Homo sapiens: one gene and its partners. The protein of the gene in region 1 interacts with the protein of each later gene in a pairwise test. Each region holds a gene or a part of one and is shown in the gene's direction. Other genes may lie near its edges.

The links.
Region 2: the proteins of HPCA (region 1) and CKMT1A interact in binary tests that used the Homo sapiens proteins (3 or more experiments, as listed by UniProt).
Region 3: the proteins of HPCA (region 1) and AP2B1 interact in a two-hybrid assay, tested with the Homo sapiens proteins (one study listed by BioGRID).
Region 4: the proteins of HPCA (region 1) and CREM interact in binary tests that used the Homo sapiens proteins (3 or more experiments, as listed by UniProt).
Region 5: the proteins of HPCA (region 1) and IL36RN interact in binary tests that used the Homo sapiens proteins (3 or more experiments, as listed by UniProt).
Region 6: the proteins of HPCA (region 1) and C1QTNF2 interact in binary tests that used the Homo sapiens proteins (3 or more experiments, as listed by UniProt).

Annotation. Positions count from the first base shown.
Region 1 is NC_000001.11:32,885,012-32,889,815, forward strand, and holds the start of HPCA (neuron-specific calcium-binding protein hippocalcin), read left to right. Parts: upstream 1-1,479; 5' UTR 1,480-1,504; intron 1,505-2,486; exon of another isoform or gene 2,487-2,552; intron 2,553-3,866; 5' UTR 3,867-3,887; coding exon 3,888-4,265; intron 4,266-4,804. UniProt on the Homo sapiens protein: Calcium-binding protein that may play a role in the regulation of voltage-dependent calcium channels. May also play a role in cyclic-nucleotide-mediated signaling through the regulation of adenylate and guanylate cyclases.
Region 2 is NC_000015.10:43,692,081-43,697,197, forward strand, and holds the start of CKMT1A (creatine kinase U-type, mitochondrial isoform 1 precursor), read left to right. Parts: upstream 1-1,778; 5' UTR 1,779-1,970; coding exon 1,971-2,119; intron 2,120-2,446; exon of another isoform or gene 2,447-2,630; coding exon of another isoform or gene 2,631-2,723; coding exon 2,724-2,922; intron 2,923-3,125; coding exon 3,126-3,221; intron 3,222-3,607; coding exon 3,608-3,829; exon of another isoform or gene 3,830-3,830; intron 3,831-3,958; coding exon 3,959-4,044; exon of another isoform or gene 4,045-4,048; intron 4,049-4,159; coding exon 4,160-4,283; intron 4,284-5,117. UniProt on the Homo sapiens protein: Reversibly catalyzes the transfer of phosphate between ATP and various phosphogens (e.g. creatine phosphate).
Region 3 is NC_000017.11:35,607,330-35,611,678, forward strand, and holds part of AP2B1 (AP-2 complex subunit beta), read left to right. Parts: intron 1-812; coding exon 813-1,058; intron 1,059-4,349. UniProt on the Homo sapiens protein: Component of the adaptor protein complex 2 (AP-2). Adaptor protein complexes function in protein transport via transport vesicles in different membrane traffic pathways.
Region 4 is NC_000010.11:35,178,652-35,183,000, forward strand, and holds part of CREM (cAMP-responsive element modulator), read left to right. Parts: intron 1-220; exon of another isoform or gene 221-237; coding exon 238-335; intron 336-482; coding exon 483-625; coding exon of another isoform or gene 626-678; exon of another isoform or gene 679-1,196; intron 1,197-4,349.
Region 5 is NC_000002.12:113,057,579-113,062,667, forward strand, and holds the start of IL36RN (interleukin-36 receptor antagonist protein), read left to right. Parts: upstream 1-1,619; 5' UTR 1,620-1,663; intron 1,664-1,833; 5' UTR 1,834-1,860; coding exon 1,861-1,889; intron 1,890-3,273; coding exon 3,274-3,359; intron 3,360-4,545; coding exon 4,546-4,673; intron 4,674-4,874; coding exon 4,875-5,089. UniProt on the Homo sapiens protein: Inhibits the activity of interleukin-36 (IL36A,IL36B and IL36G) by binding to receptor IL1RL2 and preventing its association with the coreceptor IL1RAP for signaling.
Region 6 is NC_000005.10:160,353,277-160,357,625, reverse strand, and holds part of C1QTNF2 (complement C1q tumor necrosis factor-related protein 2 isoform 1 precursor), read left to right. Parts: intron 1-2,282; exon of another isoform or gene 2,283-2,354; coding exon of another isoform or gene 2,355-2,399; intron 2,400-2,605; coding exon of another isoform or gene 2,606-2,614; coding exon 2,615-2,858; intron 2,859-4,349. UniProt on the Homo sapiens protein: Involved in the regulation of lipid metabolism in adipose tissue and liver.

The DNA of each region.
Region 1 (4,804 bases):
GGAGGCGGAGCCCTGGGGTGCCAGGAGGGGCTGAGCTGCCGATGCTGAAGAAACTCTGGGCTGGGAAGGGCCCTCTGGGCAGATGGCAAATGCTGCCGGCTTTACCTGCGAAGTAAATCCAGAAACCAGACCCACCCCGGCCATCTCTCAGCCTGAAATGGCCCCTTCTCCCACCTTGCCCCCAACTCCTCAAAGTCTCTTCTTGACATAATAACCCAAGGAAGCTGTCCACATGGAGGTCACACCCTCTCACTCTGCTCAAAGCCCCCCAGGACTTCCCATCTCATCTGGAATAAAAAGCCTAAAGTCATTGTCATAGGCCCCAAGGCCCTGGATGGCCCCAATGGCAGTTACCATTCTAACTGCCACACCCAAATCCCAACGTTTAAAAACACATGTCTAATATCGACATGTATATTGTGTCCATTGTTTATTGTCTGCGCCTGTAGTCCCACTATCTAGACAGAACAATGCTGGCCGCAGAACTAGTGTTTTATATGTATTTGTGGAATGAATGGATGAGGGCGCACACACTGGAAAAATCACTTAACCCCTTTGAGCCCATTTCTTCATGGGGACAATAAGGACCAACCCCTAGAAATGGAAAAAGGACAAAATCTCAGCCCAGCATGCGGAGAATGTTGCTGAGGCTGGGGGCAGGAGGAGCTGGGCTAGGGGTCATCGACTCTGGAGAGGAGCTGTGCGGTCGGCAGGCAGTGGGTAGGTGCCACAGGATCCCCAGGCAGATGTTCTGCCCTCCTGTCATGGCCTGCACAATCAGAGGCTGGGGAGGGAGGAAGGGAGGGGGTTTCCTTGATTGGAAGGGGGAGTGGGAGGAGCAGCTGACACCAAAGTTGGGAGGTGGGATTAATTCTGAGAGGGGGGTCGGGGTGAGGTCTGGAGTGGTGGGTTTGACATGGGGGCCGGCTCGCCAAGGTGGAGGTGGGGAAGGGGGCGTGTCTGGTCCCCTACCCCGAAGACCTCAGTAGCTGGAGGAATGGGCGCTCCACGCTCCCAGCTCCGTTAGTTGGGAGTTGAGGCGCAGGAGCAGGGAGGGTGCCCAGGGTGCCAATTCGGCCCTCGAAGCGACGTGCGGCTCAGAGCCCAGGTGGGTATGGGGAAGGAAGCGGGGCGGAGTGGCCTGGGATCGCCCCCGGCTCAGGAGAGAGACCTCTTGGCACTACCGTGTCCCTCCATTCCGGCCACCAGAGCCGAGGTGCCGAGGAGAGGGGCGCCGCGATCCTCCTCCCCGGGCAGGGTGCTCCCTCGAGGGGGACCGGGGAACTGAGGGCGTCCCCTTCTCTCCGGGGCGGGGGTGGGGGGCGGAGCCCAGCGCGCCGCTCCCCAGCCCCCAGGGCTGGCGGGGACCCCCCCAGGGGAGGGGCTCCGGGTGAGCGCTGCGGGGCGTCTCCCTCGCAGTCCCGCCCGCCCCTCCTGCCGCCCCTGCCGCGCGCGCCGCAGCAGCGCCGCCTTCCCTGCGCAGTCGGTGTCTCCGCGTCGCTGGGTGAGTGGGGGCAGCTCCAGCCGGGGCCGGGGGATGAGGGCAGGGGGTTCCCGGAGCTGGGGGCCCACGTCCAGGGCTTCCCAACACCGCCGCTCCCGGGCTTCCCGGGAATCCTTGCCCCGGGTGGCGGGGGCGCTGGGGACTGGGAAGCGCGCGGTGCTCTCCAGGGTCCTGACCGCCGAGTGGCCGGCCCCTAGGAACCGCGTTCGACCGCCCTGGAGCGCCCCCTCCAGGAGGGGCCACGCGCCGGGCGCTGTCCTAGTGCTGAGCGGATGGAGGCGGGGGCTGGGGGACAGAGCTGAGGGAGGTTTGGAGCGGGTCCCCGGGGCTGGCTTCTCAGGTCGAGCTGAGGGGGTTCTTCCCATATGGGGGACTGGAGGTCTTTGCGGGCAGCTGAATCTTCTTGCAACCGGGAGGGGCAACTCCGAGGGTGGCAGGGCCCAGGGGGCACTGGAGGAGCTCTCTTGCTCCGCGCATCTCTCTGCCCCCACCCCGGTGACCCAGTTCCTTGGACCTTGAGGAGGGCAGTGCGGGACATGCCCCAGCCCTTCTCATTTCCTTAGCCCTTTCCCACTCACTTGTCCGGTGGGTCCTTAGCCTGGGCCATAAGAGGCTGGTCTAGAAAGGAGGGGCACCAACTTACAGAAACATGCATGTGACACACCGCCGAGGACACACACGGGTCCTCCAAATGGCCACACGGGCTCATTCCCTCACGCTGTGACGGGTGCATACCTGATCACATGCACATCTGAGGCACATGCAGGGACATAGATGGAAAGACACGGCAGGCAAATGCAATGCAAAAACCAGCGGCACACATCATGCATGAGCACATGCACTCACAACACACCCATTCACATGTGTGCAGAGCTTCATGCACATGTATGCACAAGGAGGCCCCTCCTTGCCCTAAGTGGGTGGGGGTCACCTGCACACACGCCTACATCCTTGTGCAGAACTGGCTGGCTGTTTCCTCTTCATTGCCTTCTACTCAGCCTCCACAATCTAACCTGCACTCAGGGGACCTTTCAGGACTAGATGAAGGGTAAGTGTTGGGGAGGCTTGGATGGGCTTGGTGGGGGGTCTCCTTGGAAAAGGGGCCCCGAGCAGGTCTGGGAAGGTTTGCAGCTCCCTCTCCTGGGACCTGGCAGCACCCCTGGGAAAACAGAAGGAAAACAAAGAAAAATGGCAAGGGTGCCTGAAGGTCCCACGTGCAGCTGGCCATGTGAGAGGTGTCGGCATGCGAGTTGGCGTGTGATGGCATGTGTGAGACATGTGGGGTCGTGGGCTGGTGTGTCTTGATGCACAGGGTATGGGAGTTGTGCGTGGTGCCATGTGTCGATTCGTGTGAGTTGTGGAGCAGAGGGAATGTCGTCATGTGTGGAGGCATGCTGACCCATGGGTGGGCGTGGGCTGGTACGTGAGTGGCATGGGATCCAGGGTGTGGATCTGGTGAGCTATGAAGCATACAGTTATCGGTATACATTCATTTGCACAGTTTTTGCATGAGTTTTGTGGCACCTGGGTATATGTAAGTCATTTTTATTTATTTAACATTTATGTAGCACTTATCTATGCAGCCATGGTTCTAAGTGCTTCACACATATTAACTAATTTAATCCCCAAAACAATCCTCTTAGGTAAGTACTGTTATTACCCCACTTTAAAGATAAGGCAGAGAGAGTTTAAGGAACTTGCCCAAGGTCACATAGCTGGTAAGAGGAGGAGCTGGGATTCAAACCTAGGTGATCTGACTCTGGAGCCCACAGTAACACCTCCCTCTGCTGCCTCTTGTTGGGCACACCTGTCAGAGGGAGAACAGGGCAGTGTCTGGGCTGCGGGTATATTCAGTGCTGAGCAGGCACATGTGAGGCAATGAGAAGGCAGTGGGTAGGACGGAGGAGGATCAGAAGGTTTTTCTGCACCTCTGTGGGCAACTCTAGGAGTCAGCCTCATAATGCCATGGCTGTGTGACCTGAAGCAGCCACCTCACGTCTGTAAGCCTGCCTTCTCATCTGTAAAATGGGGCAAATCCCCATACAACCTGTTGCGAAAGTGAATTGGTGTGCATTTGTGAAGGCTTAGTGGCTGGCACCTAGAAGGGCCTCAGTAAATGTGAACCACCCTTCCCTTCCTCCCTCTCCCAGGAAAGCGTATGGTCCAGGGAGATGGTGTGGAGCATGGCATAGATACAGGATGCCTGGGTCTAGGCTGTGTGACCTTGGGCCAGTTCCTCTCTTTCACTGGGCCAAACAAGAGGCAGGGATGGCTGTTGGCAGGGGGGCCCATCTGGAGCAGTGTCTAGTAGCCAGGAGGGCCTGATCACTCCTCTCTGCCCTTGACCCCCTTGGGGACCCAGGTGGGACTTGGCTCGGCGGCCATGGGCAAGCAGAACAGCAAGCTGCGGCCCGAGATGTTGCAGGACCTGCGAGAGAACACAGAGTTCTCAGAGCTGGAGCTGCAGGAGTGGTACAAGGGCTTCCTCAAGGACTGCCCCACAGGAATCCTCAATGTGGATGAGTTCAAGAAGATCTACGCCAACTTCTTTCCCTATGGTGACGCCTCCAAGTTTGCCGAGCACGTCTTCCGCACCTTTGACACCAACAGCGATGGCACCATAGACTTTCGGGAGTTCATCATTGCGCTGAGCGTGACCTCGCGCGGCCGCCTGGAGCAGAAGCTCATGTGGGCCTTCAGCATGTATGACCTGGACGGCAACGGCTACATCAGCCGGGAGGAGATGCTGGAGATCGTGCAGGTGGGCCCCTGGGCCCCTCAGAATGCCAGGCACAGGGCCCGGCAGCTTGCACCCACCACCCCTTTTGATCCTCTCAGCAGACCTCGTAGGCATGTGGTGGCAGGGGATATTCTTGCAATCCCATTTTAAAAATTGTTTTTAGGAAATATTTCCCATTTAAAGAAAAGTTGAGAAAACTCCCCTATACCCTCTACCCAGATTCACCAATTAACATTTTCCCACAGTTGCTTCATCATTATCAGTGTGTGTGTGCGTGTGTGCACACTAGTGTGTAACATTTTCTTGCTGTTCTGAACATTGGCCCTTTACCCCTGGATACATTAGGATATATTTCCTAAAAATAAGCACATTCTCTTACATAACCCATAATATGATTACCAAAGCCAGGATATTTAACATAGAAACAATGCTATTATCTAATCTACCAACCATATTCCAATTTTGCCAACTGTCTCCATAATGTTCTTTATAGCATTTTTGGCCCTGACCTGGGGTCATGCATTGCATCTAGTTCTCATGTCTCTTTAGCCCCCTTTAAT
Region 2 (5,117 bases), on another chromosome or scaffold:
ATCTCTTCCCACTTCCTATTCCTTAGTAACACCCTCTCAATCAAATAGCAACCCTACTGCTCTGGAAGATTATCTCCCTATTTATCTGGATAAATACACGCTATTCTAAGAAATTATATTTATTTACTCATGGCTACTTTTCAACCTAGGTAAAGAGGCCCCACAACACAGGTAACATTTTCCACACTACAGCTGCATAACTCTGTTCTCTAATAATTGATGTCTTACCAGAAGAAGAAGGGATGGACCCAAGAGAGAAGTGGACACTTCTAAGAATACCCACAAATGACAAAGGTAGAATAAAAGGACACAAGGAAGGCCTAAGGAGAATGAAGGGAATGAGAGTAATATGGGGGAATTTTCTATGTAAAGGGAATTCTCTTTCCCAAATACTCTCTGTTAAGATTTCCAAGTATCTGTCTTGTGGGTACACCAGGATAGCAGAGGGAAGGGACTAATGCCACGGTGCTACTCCACCTTAACTGACCCTCCACGCTGAAGCCCCTCATCTCTATTTCAACTCTAGCATTCATTCTCCTTGCTACCAGGACAAAGGTCAAATCATACCTGGAGCTGGGAAACAAAGCCCTCTCAAATCTGAATATGTGTTTCACGAGGAGAGAGAGAGCAGCAGAGGGGACCACGAGGAAGGCAGAGATTCCCTGACCACCTCATGCCTTTGTACACCACTCGCCTTTACTCTCTGGATTAAACAGCATTAGGGAGACAAGAGAGGAAACACATGTGGTGTCTGGAGACCTGTGCCTGCCTGTTCCAGTCCCACACCCAGTCATCTCACCACACCCTTCACCTCACTTTACCTTCTCCTCCAGCACAGGAACTAGGAACTACGGAGAGAGAAGCCAAGGGAGAGGAGGAGGAGGAAACTAACGATTCCCTGCCCACCCCCACACCCAGCACCACCAACAGGTGGGCAAGCTTGCCGAGAAAACGCAGAGGGCATCCTGTGAGCAGCAAACACATCTGAGCCTGGAAAAGACGCAGAGAAGTAAAAGATCAAAGGTGAGGTAGGGGACGTGGAGGAAAGTGGGAGAGACAAAAGGAAAACAAAAAGTGGGGGATCATGAGAAGCAGAGGCAGGAAATAACAGGGCTTCAGACTTGGGTGCAGAATGGAGGTGGAGGACACAGCACAGATGGCATAAGAATTAATATTTCCTTGGTTCCTCCCAGGGAGTCCTTTCTCAACTTTGTAAGGCGTGCACAGAGGTGGCAAGGAAGCACCTTGCTCCTCTTCCTGGTTCTAAGGAAAAGGTGACCTTGAGCCAGTGGGTGTCTTTCCCAGTGCCTGCCTCTAACCCTGTGCTTTCTCCATATCCTCCTCTGGTATCTGTGTTTATTCCGCGGTTTCCCCGCGGCTGCCCCCGGGAGACCGAAGAGGTGGCTGGGGCAGGCCGAAAGCAGAGGAAAGGTTGGGCAGTGTCACCCTTGCACACCCACAGGGTAGACGGATCGAGTTTCAGCTTAAACCGAGGGGTGTGGGGGAAGGGTGTTGGGTTCAGCTAGTCCACGTGGGTGCTGTCCTCCACTTGGTGCTGAAATCTGGGCGGCCACATCCCCGGGGCGGGAGGGGGCTACATCCCCGGCTTTAGACGCGCGAGTCTCAGGTCCCGCTAATTACCTGGCGGGTGCTGCCCACCCCTGCCCTCGCGCACCTAGCGCGGTGGCAGGCGGGAAGGCGGGGCCTGGGGGAGCCCCACCCCTGGAGACTGCGGCTGGGGCCTCCCTCTCCTCCGCCCGCCCGCCTGCCACTAGCTCATTGCGCCTCTCCTGCAGTCTGATTGGCACCGGCTCCCATTCCGGCTCCAGCCTCCAATCCGACCCCCATTTCGGCTGCAGCCTCGGACCTAGCTCCGGCCCTCGGTCTATCCGGTTGCATCCTCCCTCCCTGTTCCGGATCTTATCTTGCGCCAGCGCCTACTCCAGGATCCCGTAGCCAGACCTCAAGCCATGGCTGGTCCCTTCTCCCGTCTGCTGTCCGCCCGCCCGGGACTCAGGCTCCTGGCTTTGGCCGGAGCGGGGTCTCTAGCCGCTGGGTTTCTGCTCCGACCGGAACCTGTACGAGCTGCCAGTGAACGACGGAGGCTGTATCCCCCGAGGTAACAGTGCCTGAGGCGCGGGAGGAGGCGGGGGCAGGAGGTGATGGGAACGAAGGTGCGGGTAGAAGTGAGAATCCGGGCAACAGAGAAGGGCTATAATCACGAAGGCCCTGGAGCTGGAGGGCTGTGCAGTCTGCAGACCTCAGTGGGGTGGGGGTGGGGGCCAAAACCATAAAGCAAGAACATTCCTGGGGACCTGCCAAGACCAGCTCTGGCCCTACGAGTTCTAGCTGCACTGGCTGCCCAAATCCCTAATTGTAAAGCCAGGAACTATCCTTTTCGCTCCCCTCCATCTCCTTCCCTCATTTCCTCAATTCCTCTCCTTAGGCTTTTCCCCTCCTCCATCCGTAGTGTTGTGTCATGGGAGGAAAGAACTGAGCAGATCTGAAGAAACTGAGCTGGCCAGCCAGAGGCAACTAGAACTATTAGGAAAGCATAGACTCTGAAAGTCCCTAAAGAGATTACCAAGGTTTACCCTCTTTCTAATTCCCCCTCCTCCCGCGGAGCAAAGCCAGACATGGCCAACTGGACAGCTCCCAGGTAACTGCACTAGGTCTAGGCGTCTGTGCCCTCCCTCCATGGTTACTGGGTACCCCCTCCCCAGCGCTGAGTACCCAGACCTCCGAAAGCACAACAACTGCATGGCCAGTCACCTGACCCCAGCAGTCTATGCACGGCTCTGCGACAAGACCACACCCACTGGTTGGACGCTAGATCAGTGTATCCAGACTGGCGTGGACAACCCTGGCCACCCCTTCATCAAGACTGTGGGCATGGTGGCTGGAGATGAGGAGACCTATGAGGTAGGGGGTCCCCAGAGTCTCCCTGATGATCCAATTCATCTTCCCAGTAATCCCAGCTCCTTTCCCCTAAAGACCTCTCACTTTCCCCCAAGACTCTGAGCCCCCCATACTTAAGTTTTCTGAACCAGTGAAATCAATGCACAATTGAAGTCTGGGGAGGGATTCCCTCTCCTTAACCATCTCTCCCTCTTAACTCCCCTTAGGTATTTGCTGACCTGTTTGACCCTGTGATCCAAGAGCGACACAATGGATATGACCCCCGGACAATGAAGCACACCACGGATCTAGATGCCAGTAAAGTGAGTTCAAATATCCCACTTCTGATTTGCATTGCCTGTGTACAACACTCTGTATCTCCAACCCCTTCACCTTATTTCCTGACTCATGGTCATTATACAGCTGAGCTTTTAATCTTAATGTAAGGAAAGAATCATATCTTAAGGGGCAGCATATATGGAGATGGAAGGATAGATAAGAATGACCATGACCCAAGGTGGGTGGTTTGGGGAAAGGTCTGCAATGCCCCCTTCAATTCCAGTGCTTTCCCAAAGGGCCTCTTCTTCCAATGCATGCAGGAAGAATGCACAAAGAGTCCTCTAATGCCTAAGGAAGGTCTCTCCTTTCCCAGGGGCCCTCAGTTCCCACCGTGTTTCTGTGACTTACATTCATTTCCCTTATCTCCCAGATCCGTTCTGGCTACTTTGATGAGAGGTATGTATTGTCCTCTAGAGTCAGAACTGGCCGAAGCATCCGAGGACTCAGTCTGCCTCCAGCTTGCACTCGAGCAGAGCGACGAGAGGTGGAACGTGTTGTGGTGGATGCACTGAGTGGCCTGAAGGGTGACCTGGCTGGACGTTACTATAGGCTCAGTGAGATGACAGAGGCTGAACAGCAGCAGCTTATTGATGTGAGGGCCTTAAGAGGGTGCTGGTTGGTGGGAGCAGATGGGGAAGGCTGGGCCAGATGAGACATGGGCTCTGAAAGGCCCAGGGGCCACCATGAAGATTCTTAACCCAAGTCCCGTTACTCTTCCCAGGACCACTTTCTGTTTGATAAGCCTGTGTCCCCGTTGCTGACTGCAGCAGGAATGGCTCGAGACTGGCCAGATGCTCGTGGAATTTGGTATGAAGCTGCTCATTACCTCTTTTGTCTTCATGCCCTCATAAATGCTTTTTTTCCCTCTATCTCTCCCAATTCTTGCCTTGCCTCTTGATCACTGTCCCTCTCCGGCCCTCAGGCACAACAATGAGAAGAGCTTCCTGATCTGGGTGAATGAGGAGGATCATACACGGGTGATCTCCATGGAGAAGGGTGGTAACATGAAGAGAGTGTTTGAAAGATTCTGCCGAGGCCTCAAAGAGGTTAGAGAAGATTGTGTAGGGGAGCTAGGTGGGAGGACATAAGGAAAACCAAAGAGTAGCATAAATAGATTATGTAATTTATCAACCAACCCAAGACATGTCTGATGGTAAAAAGGACTACCTAGGACTCACTCTAGGACTAAAGGTATAAACCAGCTGGGACCATACTGGGAAAACCAGGACATGTGGTCACACTAAGATTAGGAAAAGAGTGTCAGGAACCTTAGAAAGTGAAGAAGGCAGGTAATGCAAAGAAGGAATAACTGAGATGGCACGTCAGTGCCTGGGATGTGTGCAGTGGGATGGTGAGGTGTGCAGATAAGGAAAACATTCGAGCTTAGATTGATGTTGGCGGGGAGAGGTTGCTGTGTTCATGACTCTAATATAACCACCCAGTTCTGAGACAAGGTAGGCCTTGACTCTGGATTCTATCATTCTTGTTAAAGTATCGGGTCTAGGCTTTAAGTTGAGAGTTCAGAGGGAGACTGGGGAAGGTGGAGGATAGAATGGTTCGAGTTCTAGAATATGTGGCTCTAGATGAGAGGTTGAACTGAATCATCAATCCTACATGGATTGGGTCTCCGTATTCAAGTCTACATTAGAAATCCCCATAAACTCAATTCAATTCTTACTGTATGTTCTCAAACATACAGTTCTATTTTAGGTTTGCAAAGAAAAAGAGCTCCTCTTTTAGATTCTGAGAAGTTTCTACTATTTTTGGCAAGTAATAGATAACATATTCTGACTATGAGTGGGTAGGGAAGTACCTTTAAATTATATGCCTCAGTTTCCTCATCTGTAAAATTGGGATAATGAGATTTTCTACATTTTAGG
Region 3 (4,349 bases), on another chromosome or scaffold:
CTTTCTCATGAACTTTTTGTTCTTTTCCTGTGTTTAGCTACATTATAGAGTCAGAACGTAACAGTTTGTTCTCCATGACTGGTGGTTCATAGAGGGAATATATCATTGGGAAGAATTTAGTTTACATTTTTTGGAAGTTAGAGTTGTGCATAGATTTACATGGGCTTAAAGACATTTTTTTAGTGTAAGGCAGTTTAAAAGAGTGTTCTTTCTCCATATTCTATTTACTATATTTGGAAGCACTTGCTAGTAAAAGAGAATGTATGTTAGCCAAGAGCTCAGAGGGCCTTCTCTGCTGCTTAACTCCAGGTACTTATTTCAAGCCCAGACCAGCTCCTGTGCTCCCCTTTGTTTTCTTGGCTGCAGGCCACAGAAATCTAGCTCTCTTTTCTATTTGATGTTTAGGAACTCACTGTGGAGTAGGGCACGGTCTTTACAGCTCCTCTTTTTTTTTTTTTTTTTTTTCCTGTGCCGGAATACAAGCCCAAAAGCTTTTCCTGTTTTTAGGGTAGATCCTAATGGCTGTGGGATGGTACGAACTCCCTAAACCTCTGCCTGGCACTAGAGTGAATCCTGCTGAGCTGTTTCTCATTTTGTATTTAAAACAGTTAAATGACTTCTTCACCTAAACTCTTAAATAGGGCAGCTAAGATTTGTACTTAGGAAAGGAATAGCATGGAAGATTGGAGCTCATGTAGAATGTATCTGGAAGCTTAAATTAATGAGGTAATTCTTTTGCAGCTTACATAAACTGGACTGTTTACTTTTAGCCACCATGTATACCTACAGTTGTTGGTGATTGTTTTCTGCAGGACTGTGAAGATCCTAATCCTTTGATTCGAGCCTTGGCAGTCAGAACCATGGGGTGCATCCGGGTAGACAAAATTACAGAATATCTCTGTGAGCCGCTCCGCAAGTGCTTGAAGGATGAGGATCCCTATGTTCGGAAAACAGCAGCAGTCTGCGTGGCAAAACTCCATGATATCAATGCCCAAATGGTGGAAGATCAGGGATTTCTGGATTCTCTACGGGATCTCATAGCAGATTCAAATCCAATGGTAATAAGCTTCTGCTTTTACAAAGAGAGCAGTATTTAAAATGAGTCCCTTGTTAAAGCGTGTTTAATATGAACCTTGTCTTTGGAATACTGGGTTATGGGGTAGCTATGGGAAACATGACTTTGTGTGTCTCACAGATTGTATATTTCATATCCTAGGTGTTTTTGAGGTGAGAACCAAGTACTAAAATGCAGGGATCTTAAAGCAAATCTTTGTATTGTACTTATGCTCATATTTGCCCATATTGCCCATGATGAAAACTTTCATCATTTTCTTCAGGAGGTTTGGCCGTAAATTTATATATATTTAAGATTATTTTCTTCAGATCAATATTTGTGGTATTTTCTGGTGGTGTGGGACTAGAAACTGAATGAAAATGATCTTTATTACCTAATTATTATCATGCATTTCTCTATAGGGGAATTTCTAGGGCAAGATTATTTTTAGCCAACTTGGTTATGTTGTAAATGTTTAGCAGCCAGAACATAGCTTAACACCTTAAAGTTTTGGGACCTTTTCCTTATTGACATTTTAAACTTTGCTTATATAATGAAGAAGGTCAAGTCCCAAGTGATATGTTTGACTCCAGTAATAACTAAAGCTCATTTGAATTGGGTACTAATTGAATATATTGGATGGGTCATTAAATATTGTTGCCAGGAAGATGGAGGAAAATAGCCACTTTCTTTAAAGTGCTACCTTTTTGGTCTAATGCAATGTTTACTGAAAGGTGCATAACACTAAGAGTTAATCAGTGGATAACCTTTGAATATTCCCTTTTAAAAATTATTTATCTATCTATTTATTTATTTTTTACAGATAGGATCTTGCTCTGTGGCCAAGCTGGAGTGCAGTGGTGCAGTCATAGCTCACTGTAACTTTGAACTCCTGGGTTCAAGCACTCCTACCTCAGCCTCCTGAGCATCTAGGACTGCAGGCACATGCCACCACATCCCGCTAATTTTTTTTTTTTTTTTGAGACAGAGTCTTGCCTTGTCGCCCAGGCTGGAGTGCAGTGGCGTGATCTCAGCTCACTGCAAGCTCCGCCTTCCAGGTTCATGCCATTGTCCTGCCTCAGCCTTTTGAGTAGCTGGGACTACAGGCGCCTGCCACCACGCCTGGCTAATTTTTTGTATTTTTTAGTAGAGACGGGGCTTCACCGTGTTAGCCAGGATGGTCTTGATCTCCTGACCTCGTGATCCACCTGACATGGCCTCCCAAAGTGTTGGGATTACATGTGTGAGCCACCGCACCCAGCCTTATTTTTTATGGAGATGGGGTCTTGCTATGTTGCCCAGGTTGGTCATGAATTCCTGGCCTCAAGCAATCCTCCCACCTTGGCCTTCCTCAGTGAATTACTGTGCTTGGCCTGAATATTTTCTTAGTGAACTTTAAATGGAGAATTAGAATTTGGCTGGACATAGATGCTGTCTCTCATTTGTAAATTACCTGTTCACTTCTCTGCTTTGACATTTTGTTTGGTTCATTTTATTTTACAGGTAGCCTTGGCTTCTGTTTATTATCCTTCAAGATTAGTATTAAATCCACAGGATGAAGCAAGTCATAATTTTTTAAGGTTTTTATGGTAGTAACTACCATTAGAAATCTTTCAACCTAGGCATAAGGGTGGGCGTCGGTGTGGGTGTGGAAGTGCAGATGCTTTAACCATGACTTCTGACAGAGCATCACCACCAGTACTAGAAGATTCAACCCTGCCTTTTATTTCCCCTAAGTAACACCATATGGTACCTTTTATTTATTTTTTATTTTTTTTTGAGATGGAGTGTCACTCTGTCGCCCAGTCTGGAGTGCAGTGGCATGATCTCGGCTCACTGGAACCTCTACCTTCTGGGTTCAAGCGATTCTCCTCCTGCCTCAGCCTCCTTAGTAACTGGGATTACAGGTGCCCACTACCATGCCCGGCTAATTTTTGTATTTTTAGTAGAGACGACGTTGCACCATGTTGGCCAGGCTGGTCTCAAACTCTTGACTCAGGTGATGCACCTGCCTTGACCTCCCAAAGTGCTGGGATTACAGGCATGAGCCATCACACCCAGCCCCCTTTTTAAAAATTACATAAAGAAATTAGTTGGCTAGGCATGTTGGCTCATATGCCTATAATCCTAGCACTTTGGGAGGCTGAGGCAGAAGGATCACTTGAAGCCAAGAGTTTGAGACCAGCCTGGGCAACAAACTGAGACCCTGTCTCTACAAAAATTTTTTTAAAAAATTCGGTGGGGCCGGGTGCAGTGGCTCATGCCTGTAATCCCAGCACTTTGGGAGGCCGAGGTGGGTGGATCACGAAGTCAGGAAATCAGGACCATCCTGGCTAACGCGGTGAATCCCCGTCTCTACTAAAAATACAAAAAATTAGCCGGGCGTGGTGGCAGGCGCCTATCGTCCCAGCTACTCAGGAGGCCGAGGCAGGAGAATGGTGTGAACCCAGGAGGCGGAGCTTGCAGTGAGCCGAGGTCGTGCCACTGCATTCCAGCCTGGGTGACGGAGCGAGACTCTTGTCTCAAAAAAAAAAAAAAAAATTTTGTTGGACGTGGTGGTGCATGCCTGTAATTCCAGGTACTTGGGAGGCCGAGGTGGGAGAATCCCTTGAGCCCAGGAGTTTAAGGCTGTAGTGAGCTATGATTGCACCACTGCATTATAGCCTGAGTGACAAAGACAGACCCTTCCTCAAAAATATAGAAAAATAAATATTGTCTAAAGTTAGTAGTATCTACTTTACAGAATGTTTAGCTGGCACCAACTTGTGTTTTTGGCATTGCTTTTGATTCACTGTTATTCTGAGCAACTATCTATAATTCTCTACCTGAGGACAGATGAGATGAAAAGTGTTTGTGCTGCAACCGTCAACCAGGTGGGCAGAATATCATGTACCCCGTGGAAACTTATTAAATATTCAGTGGTGCTAAGAATATGGAATGGCTCAAAGGGAAAATGAGTTCTAACTTACAGGCGACTCCAGTTTGAGGCAGCATCTCTATGCTAATGTAAATTCTTTAATGCAGAACCTATACAGTTAGATGGTCAGGGATAAGGCCTAAGGGATGTTTAGCAGTAAAGTCGTGTGTGTGTGTGTGTGCGCGCGCGCACGTGCGCACACACACTCAAGTAGCACATTTAGAGATCTTTATCCAGATAAACCGAGAAGAATAAAATGATTCTGGAACAAGCTTAGTTTGTCCGATTTATTCAAAGTTTACATTGCAAAGGAGAGAGCTAGTTTTCATCTAGTCCATAAAATCAGGTGGCATACGTATGCTATTTATGTATTTGTGT
Region 4 (4,349 bases), on another chromosome or scaffold:
TATAGAGTACCCGTAACATTCCTTTCCACACACATTTGTTTTATAACTGAAATGTTTGCGTCTGCGCTTCCTTTCTTGAGCCAGACTCCTTCAGTGCAGATTCACTGTGTTCTATTGCTCAGTTGCTTCCACAGCTCCTGGCTCAGTGCTGCACACACAGACTCTTAGCCTCAATTTTTTGAATGAGGGAAAAGAGCATATATTTTATGATACATTTCAGAAAATCTTGTATTATAGGTAGCAGCAATTGCAGAGACAGATGAATCTGCAGAATCAGAAGGTGTAATTGATTCTCATAAACGTAGAGAAATCCTTTCACGAAGACCCTCTTATAGGTAAGTTAACCAAGTTTCCTAATGTAAAGATACTTTTTCCAAAATGGTAGAATAATTATACATCAAATCAATTCTTCCTTTATAGCTTTTCTGTTTTAAGACTTATTCATGTATCTTAGTGACTTACCTTGTTAAATTGTATTTTAGGAAAATACTGAATGAACTGTCCTCTGATGTGCCTGGTGTTCCCAAGATTGAAGAAGAGAGATCAGAGGAAGAAGGAACACCACCTAGTATTGCTACCATGGCAGTACCAACTAGCATATATCAGACTAGCACGGGGCAATACAGTATGTATGCTGCAATTCGATATGATACAGTGCTAGCTTTAAGTCTTCTCTAGTTATATTGAAGCAACTCAGGTTTTGGCATTAAATTGTTCCATTTTAAAATGCATCATTAATACCTAAACTGTATCATAGAATGAAAGTATATGTTAAAAAGTGAGATCTTTGTATTGACAGCTGTCATATAATTTTGAAAAGTAAAAATTTTGACTGCCGAATATAGAAGAAAATTTTGGGGTAAAAAGGAGAATTTTTCCTATTTACATGTTTATATTAATCTCTAGTAAAACATTGTTTTTGTTGTCTTTATGATGCATGCGAACATAAATGTCTGTATTTCATTCTTGTTGGCTTTTGTTACCCACAATTACATACTATTCTTACTAATCTGAGAGTTTTCTAAAGTATGTTTTCAATGTTTCACTACTCTCTACTCTGTTAATTTGTGCTACAGTTTTTCCTAAAAGAGAATGGAAAAATGATTTAATTTTTTAAACTGTAGCAATTGGATAGATAATTTTATTTGAAATTTTACACACTGAAAGCTCTAAATAAACAGATACATTCACATTCAGTCTTGTGCATTTTAATGGACCGTTAATTCTGTGCTTTTTGCTCTGATTAAAGCACTAGTTTTTTTCCCAAAAGAAGAGTGTTTGATACGTAAAAAGCAAGAGCTAGAAAGAAAAGAAAAAGGAGGAGAAAGGTTAGGGATATCACATATCCTAAGCTAGCCCCTTAGGTACTGGAATAATGTGATATTCCTGTCCTTTCTGAAGTATAAATTGTCCATGGAAGTTGTCTAAATCAATTTCCCATGTAATTATAATATGAAGTAAAGTGAGTTTTGTAAACTCTGCTACCCTAGGTCCTCAAAGTAATTGAACAAATATATTGACAGCAGTCATGTTGTTGAAGAGATTCATAATTTTAGTTTTCTGACTTTAAAAAGAGCTACTTAGGTACTGGAATATATGTGATATTAAATAATGTGTTTATCCAAATAAGGTATTAAGATTTTAGATATATTCTTTGTTTTTCCTTTAAAAAGTAGCAATACCAAGAAAAAAAAACTCAAGTCTTAATTTAAGTCCTGACTACTAAAACAAGCTATAATCTTTAATGTATGAGAAGACTTTATATAGTCATTATTTTTGTGGAGCTTTTTAGAGTTTTTCTTGTAGCAGTGGTAGATTTGCAGTAGTAAACTATTAAATACATTCTCTGTTGGTAATTGAGGGGAACTCCTACCATGATACCTAGCAGATCCGGGGTGTAGTGTATTCACACGTTTGACAGGGCACCCAGTAGACTTGTCCAAAGTCAGTGTTAGGAAAAGAAAATCCCCACCATCTGTAAGAAATAGACCTTGAGGTTTACATTGTCATTTTTTTATTACTTCTCTCGTTTACATGCTCTTTTGTCTGGCACACTGGGAATCTCTGGTGGGTTTTAGAACTGTAAAACTGAATATGCCAGCTGATGAGCCTCTACAGCACAGCACGCAGGTTATGAGAGTGCTGAGTGCCTCGTCCCCCCGTCCCCAGAGGGGCTGGGCAGAAGCTGCTGGCGCCTCCTGGCTGGTCAGCCCTGGCCTTGAGCAGCTCCATCCACTCACCCCAGTGGGCTGTACACATGTCATCATGTTCTGTTTGTGTAATGACAGGGAAAAGGTTGGAAGTGACTGCTGAAATGACACTAAGACTTCTCAAAGTGTTGGGAACCACTAAGATGCTGTCATCGTAACATTTCTCTGGCATATGCTAATGCTACTTAGGACTTCTGATAGAAGCAGTGATTCCTTTACAAGTTGATAGGGAAGCAGATGCTGTAGGGTTAACTTGTCTAGATTATTAGCTGAAAATTTGAAATTGTGAAAATGTATGGGGTTGAAGCTGGAGAGGATGTGGAAGGAACCATCTTTGTGCCATTTGCAAACTCAATGATCAGAGCAAGAAGCTTTATTAAATTCACATCTCAGGTTTTAGTCTTTGAAGTGGGAATAATACTAAATTGCCAAACTCTGGGGTTCCTGTGAAGACAAAGGAGATAATGGGTAAAAGTAGGGGGAAAAAGACATGCTACTATTGGCATGAAACAGAGAAATTAAGTTAGGTGTACCATTGTCTCATTCATGTTCATTGAACTTTCCCTCCAGCCAGCCCCAATGGCTTCATTCCCTGTGTCCTTGGTACCTGCTCACAGCAGGGGGCTGGCCTTAAACCTCACTCTGTGTGTCTGTGGGGGGGATGAGAGGAGCAGAGTCAGGAATTTTGGTTGAGAACTAGAAAACTGCATCTGTAGAAATTAGATCTTAGGCCAGGTGTGATGGCTCCCACCTGTAATCCCAGCACTTTGGGAGGTCTAGGCAATGAGGGTTGCTTGAGGCCAGGACTTTGAGACCAGTCTGGGCAATAGAGTGAGACCCTGTCTCTACAAAAGAATTTTAAAAATTAGCAGGGTGTGGTGGTATGCGCTCATCCCAGCTACTCAGGAGGCTGAGGTGGGAGGATTCTCTGAGCCCAGGAGTTTGAGGCTGCAGTGAGTTATGATTGCACCACTGCACTGTCCAACCTGGGCAGCAGAGTGAGACTCTGTCTCAAAACAACAAACAAAAAAAACACATCTGTCTATTTGCCACATAAGAGGTCATGGACTATTTCTTACTTTGGTTTCTTAATTTGAGTCTATACAGTATGATCCTAGAAATTATTCTGATGAGAAGTTATAGTTCTGTATGTACAGTCTGCAGGTAAAAATTGCCATTTGTTCACACAATGTGAATTTCTTTTGTTAAAAATGCATTTTGGGGACATTTAGTGAAATATATGTAGATAATTCTTTGAGAAGTGAATACTAACAACATTCAAACTTTTTAGAAGACGTTTACTTTAATTGGAGGGTAAACATACTTACACACACAACATCCATTTTTATTGATCTTATTTTTTATAGAACTAACTTAGCAGATATTAATGCTTTAATGTTGTAGCAGAATGTCTAGAAATGGAAACAATTGCCAGTTTCCTTTGGTTTTTGAATAGAGGAACGTATTTTATTAGAATTTCTGGAGATTTTCCTATTTTTTTCCTTCCCTTTGAGCTGTAAATTTTTTTTAATGCTCTTTCATAACCTTTTATTATAAAAAAAAATTTTAGGTTTAATTGTTCAGCTTTTATCCATGGATGGCTTTCTCCCAAACTTTGCTTTTATTTCTTTTTTTCCAATATTTTATTAGTTATTTTTAATTTGGAATAATGAGTTAGCTGGTGTTTAAAAGAACTAAATGTGTATCAAAGTTGAAGAAATAAAGTATATTCAAGTTTTCCCATATACAAGCAGTTACATTTTTAATAGTTGAAAGATATTTGGCAGAAGTTGGCCTTATTATATTGACTTACTATTATCACAAAAACTAAAAAGTGAAAGTTGGAATAGGCTGCTCCCTGGGGAGTAGGAAAAAGCATAAAATAGACAGGGATCCATTATTACAACACCAAGTAAGTGAGCTGTACCTGCAGAATCCTCACTGGAAGTACAGATCTTAGTGATAGGTGTGTTGCATAACAGTTGAGCTGGTCGAAGAAAGTCTTTTATTTCAGAAGCATATACCCGAGAGATGGCGGGAGAGAGACAGCCTTAGAATTAACAAAGAATGTTACTTGCTGCATGAGACAGTTAAGATAGGCAGTAAATGAGTGAATTTGTAAAAGCAACCGAGGAAATT
Region 5 (5,089 bases), on another chromosome or scaffold:
TTTTCAGTAGAGATGGGGTTTTGCCACGTTGGCCAGGCTTGTCTCATTTCATCTTATTTCTACTGTCATTCCATTTGGTCAATTTGTAATTTAATAATTTTGTACAAGGCAGTTTCTACATTAATTTTATTTTTCTGAAAAGTGTCTATCATATTAGTGGCATTATGAAAATCGTAGATTATTTTCTGTGTTTTGAACAACTTGATATTTTATTTATTCTTGAACACTTGTAGGACCTCTTGGCTCATATGTCTGAATACCATTTCTTTAAAATGTACGCTTTAACATGTACACATATGTAACAAACCTGCACATTGTACACATGTATCCTAAAACTTAAAGTATAATAATAATAATAAAAGAAAAAAGAAAAATAAAACTTAAAAAAAAAGTGTATGCTTTAACAATAAATTATTAATAAATAGTTATCTGTGTTATTCAAGATATAATTAAATTGTTTTTTGTGCACTGACCCTTACCTTTATTTCAGATCCATCACAGAGAGTGCATGGAGGTATTTAAACTGCATTAACTGTTTCACAATTAAGTATTATCTTATCAATTAGGTATTCAAGAAAGATCACTTACAGAATTATAGATGGCATGAGCTAGATTTTACTTTCTAAAGAAATAACCAGATACATGAGCAAAGATGTTAATACAAAGATGTTTGTCACAACATGGTTTTCAATAGCAAAAAAAGAGAGAAAAATATATAAAAGACAAATAACAGTGGATAGGTTTCAATAAATAATGTTACAGTGATACAGTTAAATACTATACAGCTATTGAAGCATGTCATTATTCATATTTAGTATGGAAAGATATTTTGCTATTTTGCCACATGAAAAAATGAGGTTGGAAAAAGTATAGGTTTTGTGAATCTGTTGTATGAAAGCTGTCTATAGTTACATGTGTATGTGTGTGGAGGAAATAGTGTTGTCATTGGTTTTCTGATGATGCACTCAGAAAAGACAAGTATTCACATTTTTTCTTGTGGCTGATCTGGATTTTCAGGTTTTTCTACAATGAACATGTAGGCTGAACATTCCCTAAGCAGGAGAGTCCCACCTCTAACATCTCCTGTAGGCCTGGCAATGGCAGGCAGGAAAGACAGAGGAAGGAAGGAGGGAGAAGGGAAGGAGTGAAGGAAGGAGTGAAAAAGGTAAGGAAGAAAGGGAATAGGGGAGGAAGGGAGGAAATGGGAAGGGAAAGAAGGAAAGGAAGGAAAGAGGGAGGGAAGAAAGGAAGGGAAAAGGGAGGGAGTGAGTGAATGAAAGATGGAAAGAAGGAAGAAAGGGAGGGAGGCAGGGAGGAAAGAAAGTCGCGCTTCCCTTGAGCTGCCATGGGCACTGACTCTTAGGGTCTGAAAGCCCCTGAGATGCAAAAGCCTAGTGCTCACAAAGAGCTGGAAAGCCTCAAGGAAGTTCTTCAATATTTCTGGAAGGAAACTGTCTCCAGAAGCTTCCCTCCCCACGACAGATAATGAGCAGCAAGTGCTTCTGGCGACTTAGGGTGATGTGAAATCACGCTGGGAATCCTGCTCCTCCTCAGGTCCTGGCAGTTTCAGGGCCCCTCCCTAGGCCTTACTTAAAAGGCTGAGGCATCCTTGGAGGAACAGGCAGACTCCACAGCTCCCGCCAGGAGAAAGGAACATTCTGAGGTATGCTCTGGGGCGCTGGTGGTACCGGAGCTCTCTCCTGACCCCAGACCCAGAATCTGCTCCGTGGAGGCTGTTCACATGCTGGGGAGCTCGGTGCAGCTGCTTGCTCCCCAGACCCCAGCCAACTCAGCCTCTCTCTCCATGATTTTCTGTTGTTTATTCCAAAATAGGGGAGTCTACACCCTGTGGAGCTCAAGATGGTCCTGAGTGGGGCGCTGTGCTTCCGGTGAGTGTATGAGGCCCTGGTTTGGTGGTGTCCTCCGGAGGAAGTGAGTTCTGGATAGACCCGTTGTCCAGCTCTGAGCAGGAGGGAGGAAGGGAGGGGCTGCCATTGCAGCTGGGAAATTGTGACCAGCACCTCACTGCTCTTAGAGTTTTCCCAGCCTTTTTCAAATAGGGGCAGGACTGGGGCAGGCCATCTCACAAGGGGTCCCTGATGCTGAGGGGGATAAGTGAACCTCCCAGTCTAGAGCTCCAGCCAAGTCTATCCAAGGTGGGAACGGGGGCCAGGATCCCTGCTCAGAGCTCCGCCATTGTCCCCCATCACAGTGAATGGATGTAAGCTCACCCACTCTGTGCCCCTGCCTCCCTGCTACTCTTTGGGGATAATAATAAAACAAAAACCATTACCATCAGTCAGTCTGTCCACCCACTGGCATGTACCAAGCCAGACACTCTGCCGTGTTCTGGGCTTTACAACAGAGGATGAGAGTGGTCCTTTCTCTCAGTCTAATAAAGCACTTCCCATGATGTGTTCTATGGGACTCGATTAGAGGAGTCCCACAGAGGCATCCAGGAGATGCTTTACACAGTGGAGCTCTCTGATCAAGTAAATGCAGGGAATTCTGCTTTCTACATCCTCTCATAAGAGAACCACAGCCCAGCTCAGCATATGAGTGACTCTGAGGTTTTCTGAAGTAAGGCAACTTGTTGAATTGTATTTAGCCATGCATCGACCCAATTTTTACACTGCATCCTTTTCCCCCATATAACTTTTGGAGAAACCCACTTTAGGATACATCTTCCACCTCATAGGATGCCAGGAAATCAACTGAGTTCAAAGATGAGAAACAACTTTGAAAAGTTAAATAAAAGAAATTTAAATTTAAAGAAACTCCTCACTTAGTAAGGAATATATGACCAAATAGAAATACATGTATCTTGAAGAATTGAAGAATCAGGCTTTAACGTGGAAGAGGCCTGGATGTTATCCAACCCATCATCTTAGTGTAGCAATGGGGAGGCTCAGGCCCAGAGTGGGCGAGAGAGTTGTCTCCTGCGACTCAGCAGCATTGGAGGCAGAGATGGGGCAAGAACCTAGGGCTCTGACTCACCGTGCAGCTTCTCTTCCAGCAGGAGATGGGTTGGGGCAGAAAAGGTTGAATAGGGTGAAGGAGCAAACCACAGACTCCAGTGGGAGACTGTGGGGTCATCCTCCTTGTAGGGCATGAGCCCAGCAGGGCTGGGAGACAAGGCTGTGCTGTTACTTCTGGCACAGTAGGAAGAAAGAGAGACAAAATGCCTGAGATCAGGGGGTTCTCTGGATCCAGGGCATGCTGGAGTGTCCACCCTCCTCCTAATGTAGTCCTCACCCCTTCCTGATGTTTCAGAATGAAGGACTCGGCATTGAAGGTGCTTTATCTGCATAATAACCAGCTTCTAGCTGGAGGGCTGCATGCAGGGAAGGTCATTAAAGGTTGGTGATGAAACATGACCCACTTTCCTTGGTCTCTATACACTCTCAGGGGAGGGGGCCTGAAGAGGGCTTAGAATAGTCATACAGATTAGCATAGGCCTACAGAGCCCAGGCATTGGGGCAGCACAAACCAGGCTCTAAGCAAAGGCAAATAAAATACTACACCTCTCAGCAAAGTGAAGACACAGGCTCTGGGGCCACCTGAAGCTTCTATGCAGAAGTGGGAATGTTTTCCAAGAGGCTTGTCTTGTCATTCCCTTACAGGTAGATTTAGGTCAAGCATTGCATTCCCTGGGAGCCAGTAAGTACCAAGGAGAGAACTAACGTAGATTCTCTATACCTTTTTTCCCATATGGGAGTGGGTTTCTGCCTCTCCACCCTGGGTCCCCTCTGCTCTCTGAAGATCCTCAGTCACTTAGAGTGGAGGGACCCAGAGAACAGGTGGCATTGTTGGACCTCCTGCTTGCTCACTCTGCCCCATGCACTGCAACACGTCCCTCTCTAAAATAGTTTGCACCTGCCCACCTGGGGCACCCTTGCTGAGCACAGATGCCAGGTAGATCCTTCAGCTAGGCCATATGTGTATGTGTGTGCTTACTGGTGTATGTATGTGTGCATGCAGGCATATATGTGTGAGCATGTGTGCATGCATGTATCTGTGTGTAACCATGTATGTGTGAGTGCAGGTATGTAGGTATGAGCATGTGTGTGTATATGTATATGTGTGCATGCATGTATCTGTGTATGTATGTATCTGATGTATGTGGGTGGTGAGGGGATGTACAGAGAGGAATGAGACCCTCTTTTGCTCTCAGCAACATCACAGGGTGTAGAAAGTTGTCCAAACAATTCCAAAGGGGGGCTTATCAAGACAGGGTTCAGAAAAAGGCCTGAGACCCAAGGGACATTAAAGGAGGGGGTTGAATCTATTTTGGGGTGTAGAGGCTTGAAGATTTGACCCTGAACTAGAGGGTGGAGTGGAGGTGGTACAATGTGCTTCCATGCCTTGATGTCCACTCTGAGCCAGTGGACAGGAGAAGCCATGTCATGACAGCTGCTGAGAAGCCTCCCTTCTGCCCAGCCTGGGGGCAGGCCGTCTTACAGCAGTCCTGTGCCCTAGAGCCCAGGACAGGGGAAGAAGGAGGGAAAGGCATCCAGGGCCCTGCATCTGGCCTCTTTCCCACAGGTGAAGAGATCAGCGTGGTCCCCAATCGGTGGCTGGATGCCAGCCTGTCCCCCGTCATCCTGGGTGTCCAGGGTGGAAGCCAGTGCCTGTCATGTGGGGTGGGGCAGGAGCCGACTCTAACACTAGAGGTGAGACTTGGGGCATCCTCACTGGGGACTCAGCCACAGATGCTGAGCCTACTGAAGCCGGGCAGCCCACAGCCCTGGTGCTGTGGGACACCCTAGCAGGATTCTGTTGATGGCAGCTTTGCCTCCTCCCTAAGGATCCTGCCCAGCCCTCCCTCTGCCCCTGCTTCTGCCCTCACCTGACCTCCCCTCCTCTGCCGGCAGCCAGTGAACATCATGGAGCTCTATCTTGGTGCCAAGGAATCCAAGAGCTTCACCTTCTACCGGCGGGACATGGGGCTCACCTCCAGCTTCGAGTCGGCTGCCTACCCGGGCTGGTTCCTGTGCACGGTGCCTGAAGCCGATCAGCCTGTCAGACTCACCCAGCTTCCCGAGAATGGTGGCTGGAATGCCCCCATCACAGACTTCTACTTCCAGCA
Region 6 (4,349 bases), on another chromosome or scaffold:
ACCTGCTTTAAAAATTCAGTTTCTATTCTGGGGGTCCCAGATGTGCTGCAGCTCACAAATAAGGCCAACCAGTTTTCCAAGACTCTCCTAACGTAGACAGGGAAAGAAATGGTGATTCACAGGGCCTGGGGAGTGTCTAGGCCATAGTTTTCCAAAAGCACCTGTCATTCATGTAACATTTCCATGATGTTTGCCGTACCTGCCTACCATCTCTACTATTATTTATCCAACCTAGGTTGAGCAAGTGTGACATCAGAAATACAATCAAACTGCATCCTTATTTTTGCCTACCCCTCCCTACTTATAATTTAGTCAGTGAGGGGAGCTCCTCCTCCCCCTGGTTGAAGTCTCCACTCCCAGGCAACCCACACCTCAATTTCCATTCGAAGGTGAGATTTCTTCCTGCTCCCCCAGTGAAGGTGTGAAACGGGCAAGGCCATCTGCTCCCCTTGTCAGCTCACCTGTTTCCAAGTTGAAGGGAGGGGAGGTACAGGGACAGGAGGAGGATTTCTAGATGTTTCACGACTGGGGCGGGCCTAGACTGCTCTGTGTCTCTGTGCCTGGCAGACATTTAAAGCTGTCTTTTCCATGGGGGCCTTTTGCAGGCTCTTTGGGAGTAACCATTTTGGGCCCTGTGATTGTCACACTGCTGGGATGTGGGCAATGAACATTTTCCTTTCTCTGCAAGTCTAGGCCTTCCCCTCAGCATCTGTTTCCAGGGTTAAAGATCCTGGAGGGGGCAGGAGGAGAGGTATGGTCAGCCTGTTTCTGAGGGGAACAGCCAGAGGCAGCCGAAAAGCCTGGACAGGCTCCAAGAGCCAGGGGCCAAGCAGAGTCTGAAGGGAAAGGGGATTGAAAGCCCAGAAGGAAAAATGAGTTCCAAAGGTCAATGCCTGAGTAATGCCCCTGCTGTGCAACCAGGACCACAGCTGCCGAGGATCCCCCTAATACTTAAACGCTCTGATTGGATAGCCACAGGCTGAGTGAGGACTACAAAGCCCACAGTGCTTTGTATCTGGAAAGAGAACAGATTGAAGTCTGAAAGGCTCAGCATTGGAGCTAGAAGAGACCCTAGAGACCATCTACTCTAGTGGTTCCCAAAACAAGGTCTCTGGACCACCATCAGCAGCATCCCTTGGAAACTTATTAGAAATGCAAATGGTCCAGCTTCACCCCAGAACTAATGAATCAGAAACTTTGGGGATAAGGCCCAACAACCTGTGTGCTAACAAGCCCTCGAGGTGAGTGTGATGCGCACTGAAGTTTAGGAACCACTGCTCTAGCCCAGCCCCTGTTGTTCAGGTGAGGAAACTGAGGCCCAGAGAGGGAAAAGGGTTTGCCTAAGGTCACAAAGCAAGTTGCCATTTTATAGTTAATCGCCATGGCAGGAAGTCATGCCTGGGATGTTCCCCCTCCTGGTTTCATTCTTGAGAGAGAGGCTGTTAATTACAAAGCAAAGGAACTGATTTGTTGAGAGATCTTGGGCAAGTTGCTTATTTCTGCTCTGGGTCTCAGTTTCTGCGTATGCATAGTGAGGGCAGGGAGTAGATACCTCCAGGTGCATAGCACACTGATCTCCAGTGGGATCGTGCTATTGCTGCCATCAGCCTTAAGGACACGGTCTAGCCTGGGACAGGAGGGCACAGGCTCTGGATCTGGACAGCCTGGTTCAAACCTTAGCCCTGCCATCTACTCATCGCATGATGTAGACCAGGAGTGTCCAATCTTTTGGCTTCCCTGTGCCACATTGGAAGAAGAATTGTCTTGGGCCACACATAAAATACACTAACGATAGGTGATGAGCTTAAAAAAAAATCGCAAGAAATATCTCATGATGTTTTAAGAAAGTTTACAAAACTTGTGTTGGGCTGCATTCAAAGCCATCCTGGGGTGCATGCGGCCCACAGGCCCCGGGTTGGAAAAGCGTGATGTAGACACATTGCTCAACTTCTCTGAGCCTCCGCTTCTTCTCCTGTATCTATTCTATAAGGGTATTGTGAAGATCAAGTAATGAATGGAAAGCTCTTAGCACATGCCTGGCGCACAGGAAGCGCTTGGGGGAGGAGCTGCTACCACGGCCTGCCAGGGTCACTCAGGTGATGGTTGACCTCCACTCAGTAACTGAATCCTCAGCCCTCCTCATGTGCAACCCTGAGTCTCCCATGAGAAGCAGACTAGTTGCAAAGTCACCTACAATTCAAACATTACCCTTGTAGAACTGTAACTTTCTATTCATGCCACAGATTTGGATGAAACCATGGATCATTTCTCTCCATTCACAGCTCCTCCCAGTCATCAGTCTCTGGGTCATAAGTTCTGCATCCATTTCAGCCACTCTGGAAGATGATGGTCTGATGATGAATGCCTCACCCCCGAGACCCCTTCGAAGTGTATTCTGGGTAATGACTCCACTCACCCAAATATGTCCTCAAGATATGACGACTCTGTCCACATCACATCTACTTGTATGTGATGCAGGAAAGAGCAAGAGACAGAAATCCAACTGAGTGTATCCCAGCTGCCTCCTCCTGTGCATCCCCTCTGACCAGCCCCAGGTCAGCTTGGTGGCCACACTCACCTGTCACAGCTCTCTTGCCTCCCACAGGTAACCACCATGATCCCCTGGGTGCTCCTGGCCTGTGCCCTCCCCTGTGCTGCTGACCCACTGCTTGGCGCCTTTGCTCGCAGGGACTTCCGGAAAGGCTCCCCTCAACTGGTCTGCAGCCTGCCTGGCCCCCAGGGCCCACCCGGCCCCCCAGGAGCCCCAGGGCCCTCAGGAATGATGGGACGAATGGGCTTTCCTGGCAAAGACGGCCAAGATGGACACGACGGCGACCGGGGGGACAGCGGAGAGGAAGGTAAGAGGCCTATACGTGCCACTCTCGTTCCCACCTGGCTGACAGCATCCGGCATGTGGGGGGCATCATGAAGTTAATAAAACTAGTATTAATCCTCTTCATTATAAATCAAATTACTATTTACTTATAAATCTATATATATATATATATATATATATATATATATATACTTTTTTTTTTTTTCCCCTTGAGACAGAGGCTTGCTCTGTCGCCCAGGCTGGTGTGCAGTGACATGATCTCAGCTCACTGCAACCTCTGCCTCCTGGGATCAAGCAATTCTCCTGCCTCAGCCTCCTGAGTAGCTGGAATTACAGATGCATGCCACCATTCCTGGCTAATTTTTGTATTTTTTAGTAGAGAGGGGGTTTCACCATGTTGGCCAGGCTGGTCTCAAACTCCTGACCTCAAGTGATCCATCTACCTCGCCCTTCCAAAGTGCTGGGATTACAGGCATGGGCCACTGTGCCCGGCCTCAGAGCAGTTTATTCTGAAAGGAACATGGGTATTGAATTTTGTGTTCCTGCCCCCGGTGCACCTTTGGGTTGCTAAGTGACTTTGGAAAAGTCTCCCAAAATATTACTGAGAACTCTTGATAATTGCAAGTGACAGAAACTCAATTTATAGTCCCAAATGGAATGTATTAGCCCATAAAACTGAGACATCAGGCCAGGCGCGGTGGCTCACACCTGTAATCTCAGCACTTGGGAGGCCGAGGTGGACAGATCACTTGAGGCCAGGAGTTCAAGACTAGCCAGGCCAACATGGCAAAACCCCATCTCTACTAAAAATACAAAAAATTAGCCAGGTCTGGTGGTGTATGCCTGTAATCCCAGCTACTCTGGAGGCTGAGGTAGGAGAATTGCTTGAACCCAGGAGGCAGAGGTTGGAGTGAGTTGAGATCGTGCCACTGCACTCCAGCCTGGGAAACAGAGCAGGACAGTGTCTCAAAAAAAAAAAAAAAAAAAAAAAAAAAAAAAAAGCCTGAGAAGTCCAAGAGCCAAGCTCCAGGAATAGCTGAGTCCAGGAGCTCAAATATCATTGTCACGGCTCTGCTTCTCTCTGTGTTTGTTGTATCCTCACAAAGGCTAGAAGTTCTGAAATAGCACTGCTGGGCTCCGGCCCACATCTTCCTGGCTTCATCCACAGAGCAAATCTCAGAACAGCCAATTCTCCTTGGCCACATGCGTATCCTGGACCAATTCCCTTGACCAAGGAGGTGAGGTGCCTCCATTTGCAGGGCAGGCTCATGGACCCACCCCTGCGTGTGTGTGAGTGGGTGGTGGGGGCAGTCAGTCATTGTGACTGACAGCCCCGCTAGGACCGTATGAAATGAAATGGTGAAGGGCAACTCCCCAAAGGAAGGGATGCCAGGCAGACGGCGAGCAGAATGGATATACTCTACAGACCTTTCCGTTGTGACATTCCTTATATCTCCAAACTTTCACCCCAGCAACCAAGCACTTTTCAGTGTCAGCAGCATCCCTAAGCCTA